Linked DNA regions of Homo sapiens. The protein of the gene in region 1 interacts with the protein of each later gene in a pairwise test. Each region holds a gene or a part of one and is shown in the gene's direction. Other genes may lie near its edges.

What was found. Proteins that work in one complex are often made in the same cells at the same time.
Region 2: the proteins of GOLGA2 (region 1) and KRT6B interact in binary tests that used the Homo sapiens proteins (3 or more experiments, as listed by UniProt).

The regions. Positions count from the first base shown.
Region 1 is NC_000009.12:128,266,008-128,269,507, reverse strand, and holds part of GOLGA2 (golgin subfamily A member 2), read left to right. Parts: intron 1-983; coding exon 984-1,088; intron 1,089-1,347; coding exon 1,348-1,391; intron 1,392-1,510; coding exon 1,511-1,574; intron 1,575-1,990; coding exon 1,991-2,050; intron 2,051-2,233; coding exon 2,234-2,314; intron 2,315-3,182; coding exon 3,183-3,221; intron 3,222-3,487; coding exon 3,488-3,500. UniProt on the Homo sapiens protein: Peripheral membrane component of the cis-Golgi stack that acts as a membrane skeleton that maintains the structure of the Golgi apparatus, and as a vesicle thether that facilitates vesicle fusion to the Golgi membrane.
Region 2 is NC_000012.12:52,449,347-52,453,605, reverse strand, and holds the start of KRT6B (keratin, type II cytoskeletal 6B), read left to right. Parts: upstream 1-1,459; 5' UTR 1,460-1,527; coding exon 1,528-2,067; intron 2,068-2,985; coding exon 2,986-3,200; intron 3,201-3,533; coding exon 3,534-3,594; intron 3,595-3,752; coding exon 3,753-3,848; intron 3,849-3,972; coding exon 3,973-4,137; intron 4,138-4,259.

The DNA.
Region 1 (3,500 bases):
GGATTGTCCTCAGGTACTATTCCCAGGAAAGAGGCCCTACAACTTCCAAGTTGCCAAGAGCCACAGGGAAGATGTCTTACCTCTGTTTTCTTGGGTGGTTTCTTGGCTGGGTAGATGTTTTTGGAGGTAAGAGGTCGGGGTGGGGGTGTTGGCCATGGTTTATCCTCTTTTTACCTCCAGAGAGTTGGAGAGAGTCTTCTAGTTGGGCAGCTTTTTTTTTTTCCCCCTGAAAAGGCCTGAATCAGAAACACAGCCAGTAGGCCAAGTGCAATGGCTCACACCTGTAATCTCAACATTTTGGGAGACCAAGGTGGATCACTTGAGCCCAGGACTTTGAGACCAGCCTGGGCAAGATGGCAAGACCATGTTTCTATAGAAATTAGCTGAGCATGGTAGTGTGCACCTATAATCTCAGCTACTAGGGAGGCTGAGGTGGGAGCATTGCTTGAGCCCAGGAGGTGGAAGCTGCAGTGAACTATGATTGTGCCACTGCAGGGGAGAAGGGAAGGGAGGAAAGGAGGAGACAGGCAGATAGCTACATTGTGCATTGCCCAGACAACTACTTCCTCATCACCATCCTCTGCCCAGTAGGGGCCCAGTGAGGGTCACTCTGCAGCACAGACTGGCCTTCTGGAAGAACAGTGCCTTTCTCCTCCCTGACTTTGGCACACCTTCCTCCTGCCTGCTGTGGCTGCCACAGGTCAGAGCCTGCTGCTGTCTTTTGCTGAGCTCCAGGGAGAGCGAGGTCCTCGTGTTCATGAAGGAGGCCGTGCAGCCCCTGCTTTGAGCTTTGGCCATCTGAAATGCTGCCTAGCAGCCCAAGGCCTGGGCAACCAATCCACACCCCTGAGTGGCTCCTAGCATGTGTGACTGTCACTCTGACTGCAGCAACACCTGTCCTACCTGTTCCACACCCTTGTGTTCATAGTACTGAGGCACCTCTCCCGCATGGCCCCCTAACCCCCTGCTCTGTTCTGTGACAGACACCCAAGGACAATGCTGCTACTCTACAACCATCTGATGACACCGTGTTACCTGGCGGTGTCCCTTCCCCTGGTGCCAGTCTCACTAGCATGGCGGCATCTCAGGTTCGTGCCTCCTCCCCCTCTGCCCACTGCCCTCCTGTACCTATTATGCATTATCTTCTCCTTTCACAGGCAGCTTGTTCCCTAGGGTCAAGGGCCCTTCCTGGGGACCGGGCCGGGGGAAGGCTCAGACTGGGCTTTTTTCCTTGAGGCCTGGGGAGATTGAAGATTGTTAGAATGAGTTTGGGAGCTTGACTCACCCCATCCTGGGTGATTCTTACCAGAAATTGAATGACCATCTCACACGTTTCTTCCCAAACAGAATCATGATGCTGACAATGTCCCTAATCTCATGGATGAAACCAAGTGAGTGTCTCCTGTTGGGGCAGCAGTCTCTAGGCTGAGAGAGTCAGGGAGGCCACTGCCCATGACCTTCTTTCCCATTGAGCCACCTGCACCCCTGACCCCTGTGTCTCCATCCCTAGGACTTTCTCATCAACCGAGAGCCTGCGACAACTCTCCCAACAGCTCAATGGTCTTGTTTGTGAGGTACCTCAGGAACTGAGGCCGAGAGCGGGGTGGGGGGAAGGGAACTATGATAGAAACTGAAGCAGGGATTCACAAGAGAGAGGGAAGATCCTGGGACCAGCCAATGTGCTGGGCAATGTTAAGGAAGTCGCCTTTTCCCTGAGCCTTCTCCCTTGAAGTTGTGCACATGAAGGAGTTGGACCCCATGACTGGTTGCATCATTGTATCCTGCTGCAGAAGCACTGGATGAGAGCTGCTCGGGAGGAAAGGATGGTGGGGAAATAAGAACCATGAGAGAAGTTGGCACAAAGGGGTTACGGGACAGAGGGTCCAAGTTAGAAAAGAAAATGTTGCCAATTGCTGGGGAAGAAACGAAGTTAGAGGGCTTAGACACTGAGGGGACAGAACATCTCCATGTGCACTCTCGTCTCTTATAGTCTGCGACATGTGTCAATGGGGAGGGCCCTGCATCGTCTGCTAACCTGAAGGATCTGGAGGTAAGAGGCCCTGGGCCGTGGCCCAGTGACCCTGCAGGCCAGCCCTCCAACCTCCTCCCACAGCGGGGGCTGGGTGCCCCTCTGCCAGCTGAGACAGCCCACACACCCCCCAACCCTAATGATTGCTCTCTCTACCTCTCCCCCCAATCCTCCTCCAACTCCTCCTCTCTGCATGCGCCTCAGAGCCGGTACCAACAGCTAGCGGTAGCCCTGGACTCCAGCTATGTAACAAACAAACAACTCAATATCACGATAGAGAAATTGGTAAGAGTCCAGTGGGGTCCCCTGATTCCATGCTGCTAATCCTGGGCTCCAGTTTCCCCTTGGGACCCTGAAGAAAGGGGCAGGGGGCCCCTGGTGCCAAGGGCGAATGGGGAGCTGGGGGGCCCAGGCCTCAGCTGGAGGGACCCCAGAGCACGGAGCATGCAGCATGGCTCTTCTGTTGCTGCCCTCTTTGCCTACTCTCTCTTCTCTAGACACCCCTGCTCGAGTCCTTGCCACACACGCCCTGGGGTTGTTGCCTCTTGGGGAAGCGCTAGCCTGACTGGTTGTCAGGAGCCCTGTATTTCTGCCCTGACTCAGTCCTTAATTTGCTCTTTGATTTGGGACAAGCCACCTCTCCTCCTTGGGCTTGCATTTCCTGAGGAGGTAGAGTTAGAGAGTATCAAAGGTCTCTTAGCTCTGAGAGTCCAAGATTTAAAGGCCCATTAGAATGTAAACCTCAGGGCCAAGGGCTCCTGTCTGTCTTTTTCTGTCTGGTATCCCTGCTATTAAGAACCGTACCTGGCCTGTGTGTGCTCAGCAAATGTTTGTTGAATGATTACACCTTTCTAAATCACAAACTGGCAGAGGGTGGGCTTTTCTCACACTCCATCTCTAGAGGTTTATGTTACTGTCCTTTCAAGAGAATCGAGATTCAGACTTTCAGTTCTGTGGCTGTGGGCAAAAACCAACAAAGACACAAATCCCCTTTCCTTGAGAGCCTGAGGAGAGTTTACCAGTTCGTGTTCCCATTGGGTCTGAGAACTTTGCCTTTAAAATCCATTCCTGGCCCCTGCCTACCCGTTCCTGGTCTGGGGAATAGAGTTGAGGGGGCCACCCTCAGTCACCTTCCTTTGACTCTTCCCCACAGAAACAACAGAACCAAGAAATTACGGATCAGTTGGAAGAAGTAACGTGATTTCTTTGTTTGCTCACAACATGACTGCTGGGTTTGGGGGGCATTCAAATGTAGAGGCCTCAGTCTCGTCTCACCCACTCCCAGCCTGGGGAAGAAGGCTCACCCCCCCAGATTCCACCCCATCCCCACAGGGTCCCTGATAACCTGGTCCCATGGGTGGGCCTGTCCTGGGACATTGGTGGCATTCTGGGGGCATGTCCCTTGCTGTGCCGTCTCTGCCTCCCCCTCGTAAGAGCTCTGTCTTCCTCTTCCTATAGGAAAAGAAAGAAT
Region 2 (4,259 bases), on another chromosome or scaffold:
ATGAATACATGAAATATTTTATATACATAAAACACACTCAAACACATACACACAAAACATTCATGTATTTATTTATATACCTTTCTACAATGCAGGCTCCCTCTCTATATATGCCAACTCCCTCCACCTCTTCCTCACCCATACAAACACACGTTGACACAAACACATATGCACAGACATGTCACCCATGGCCCAGGAAAAGCACAGGAAAATATCCAAGTAAAGATACAAGGATACACAAGGAACTGCTAACATTACTTCCTCCATAGATAGGAATTGGGTAACTGGGGAATGGCCTTGAGCTATATTATTTTGTTGTTTAGCATGTTTTACAAAAAATTTTTTAAAACATGTATCATGTATTCAATTTGTAAACATGTAAATAATTGTGCAAATAGTACTATTCAAAATTTAAATGGGCAATCTACTACATTTACTTCTAGAATGTTTAAATATAGACAGAATCTTAATAAGCTTCTAATTTTAATATGAAATATGAAGGTTAGAGTCTCATATTAAAGGAAACAATAGGGGTATGCAATTAGAAAAATCCCAAGAATGAAAAAGTACAATGAACAGTTAACCTGTTTTATTTAACAAATAAAAGTAAGAAATGAAGGGAGATTTTTAAATTTCAATGATTTAAAGGATATATCACTCAAATACAACGTTTATAGAGCTTATTTTGACTCTGATTGGGACACCAAAATATAAGAAATATATATCAAAAATAGGACTGCTTGAAGACTAAATAGACACTTGTTCATTTTAATTAGTATGTAAATTTTTAAGATATAAAAATAGTGTTTTGATTTTTTAAAGGACCTATTATTTAGATATTAATATTGAATTATTGATTGAAGACATAATATGACTTCTGGAATTTCCTTTCAAACAATCTAGAATGGAAGAGGAAATAGGGTTGAAGTATGAAAGAAATCAGGCTGGCCATGAGATGATCATCATGGAAGCAGGTGACAGGTATATACAGGCCCATTGCAGTGTTCTGCTTCTCTACCTGTTTAAAATTGCACCTAAAAGGTGAAACAATTATGGGGAAATTGTAATATTTCTGTTAAGGAATTCACAATACAGTGCCTGTGATCTCCAACAGCAAGGCTGGAAGAAAGTCAGACTGGGAAGAGGAGGGCACTCAGGGCATGTCGATAAACAGCCTAGCATGCAGAACCTTTGCTGAAGACAGTGACTAATTCCAACTTCATGAATTGAGAATACTCTTATTGTGCTGAGATCTCAAGTCAAAGCTGGAGGCAGGAACATTTTGCCTGACTAAAGGAAGCGAAAAATGCAATCTCGGTATTTCATAACTTTTGTAATAATGCAGGTGTGATCTCACTATTTGTAAAGCCCAGCCCTTCCCAACCTGCAAGCTCACCTTCCAGGACTGGGCCCAGCCCATGCTCTCCATATATAAGCTGCTACTGGAGTCCGATTCCTCGTCCTGCTTCTCCTCCCTCTCGCCTCCAGCCTCTCACACTCTCCTAAGCCCTCTCATCTCCTGGAACCATGGCCAGCACATCCACCACCATCAGGAGCCACAGCAGCAGCCGCCGGGGTTTCAGTGCCAACTCAGCCAGGCTCCCTGGGGTCAGCCGCTCTGGCTTCAGCAGCATCTCCGTGTCCCGCTCCAGGGGCAGTGGTGGCCTGGGTGGCGCATGTGGAGGAGCTGGCTTTGGCAGCCGCAGTCTGTATGGCCTGGGGGGCTCCAAGAGGATCTCCATTGGAGGGGGCAGCTGTGCCATCAGTGGCGGCTATGGCAGCAGAGCCGGAGGCAGCTATGGCTTTGGTGGCGCCGGGAGTGGATTTGGTTTCGGTGGTGGAGCCGGCATTGGCTTTGGTCTGGGTGGTGGAGCCGGCCTTGCTGGTGGCTTTGGGGGCCCTGGCTTCCCTGTGTGCCCCCCTGGAGGCATCCAAGAGGTCACTGTCAACCAGAGTCTCCTGACTCCCCTCAACCTGCAAATTGACCCCGCCATCCAGCGGGTGCGGGCCGAGGAGCGTGAGCAGATCAAGACCCTCAACAACAAGTTTGCCTCCTTCATCGACAAGGTGAGCCAGTGCCATGCCCTCCATCGGGCACTTCAGGGTCCCCAGACCAGAAGAGCAACACCTTCCTGCCGGAGAGACCCTAGGAGGGAGGGAGAAGGGGACTCAGCCCAGCTCTGCAGAGAGTGCAGGTGGCTCTCGGTGCACAGGAGGCAGCACAGATGGGCATCACTCCCCCATGGGATATCTGGAGTGGCCCTCACTCCTGCCTAGGGAGAGCCATAACTTTTCATAACCCTGAAGCACAGATGAGGCCATCAGAGAGTGGAGTAGGTTAATTCTCCCCTCTGAAGTGTTTAAGAGATTACAAAGCAAATGCCAGGAGTATATGGGCTGGTAAATTACACTCTGGGGTCTGGGTAAGAGGAAAAAGATTTAGAAAGAAAAGGAAAAGATAATCTGGCTGGATTAAGAAAAAAAGGGACATAGAAACAACTGTAAAACATGGATAAATGCTAATTAATTTTAAAAACAGAGAATGACCATAACATCAGAATATTTGAGAGGAGACACTAAATGGGAAAGTAGACTGAAATGTAATCATGAGTCAACATCTAATATCCCTCCTAACTAAGATCCTCTCGGTAAAAAAAACTGTGTACAATATATCAGGTAATTAGTATTTTTAAACTAGATTTGTGATTGTGCTTGGAAAAAGAAAAGAAGAAATGTTGAAACTCACTGATGATCAATAGCTTACAGTGCGAGAACACCTCAGTGGTCCGTGGGACAATTTCTCTAGTGAGACTGGTGGGGTGCAAAGGAGAAGGAGTTGGGGGAGCAGAGCTCAGCCTGAGCCTCTCTACATGCACTGTAGTAGCCCAGCACCATGGGGACCTCCCAGACCTCCAGGAAACTGGATACCAGACACTTTCTCTGCCTTCCTTTTCCTGGAAAATGACCATTTTGCTTCCCCTCCAGGTGCGGTTCCTAGAGCAGCAGAACAAGGTTCTGGACACCAAGTGGACCCTGCTGCAGGAGCAGGGCACCAAGACTGTGAGGCAGAACCTGGAGCCGTTGTTCGAGCAGTACATCAACAACCTCAGGAGGCAGCTGGACAACATCGTGGGGGAACGGGGTCGTCTGGACTCGGAGCTGAGAAACATGCAGGACCTGGTGGAGGACCTCAAGAACAAGTGAGGACTCCATTTCCTGCAGCACACACTTCAAGACTATTGGGTGACCAGGGCCAGATGTGTGTAGGATTCCTAACAACCCATGTCCATGGAAATGAAAAGCACAAATTAGTCCCTAGGAGCAAACCTGCAAGAACCACAGATGGTTATGGGAGGATGGGGAGATTAAAGAAATGGCAAATTTAGTAGTAGCAAAATTCATCTCTTTGGCTCTCTGTGGCAGGAAAGCTCAATTAGAATATATTCCATTCAGGAAAATGTTGAATCCCAAGCTGCTTTTCTGTTTCATCCTACCCACTGGCTCAAATGTGTCCCATGCCTTTCTTCCTGTAGATATGAGGATGAAATCAACAAGCGCACAGCAGCAGAGAATGAATTTGTGACTCTGAAGAAGGTGAGCAGATGAAGCCAGGGGTTCAAATTCATTTAGAAGGAGAGAAGTGGCTCTGTGTCCTCGCTCCCCTGGGAGAGGAGAATTGGCAGGAGGACTAGAAGATGGGTAGATTGGAAAGGTGAGCTCAGGCAACTCCAGGTTGTTGGCTCTTTCCCCAGGATGTGGATGCTGCCTACATGAACAAGGTTGAACTGCAAGCCAAGGCAGACACTCTTACAGATGAGATCAACTTCCTGAGAGCCTTGTATGATGCAGTAAGCAACTCCACCATCCTTCTGTTTACTCTGATGGGGTCTGCAAAGGGGAGAAGATGTACAGGGCTGGGCATCTCTGTAAATGTCAGAAGTGAAGTTGATCTTATGACCTTCTGTTCTGCAGGAGCTGTCCCAGATGCAGACCCACATCTCAGACACATCCGTGGTGCTATCCATGGACAACAACCGCAACCTGGACCTGGACAGCATCATCGCTGAGGTCAAGGCCCAATATGAGGAGATTGCTCAGAGGAGCAGGGCTGAGGCTGAGTCCTGGTACCAGACAAAGGTGAGCACGGAGTGGACAGCCGCTGAGGAATCCTTGTGTCCATCCCTGAATACCAGAGGACTGCAGACTTCACTGGGGACATCCCCTGACAGGAAGCTGGGGTCCTCTCACAGGACATGCAC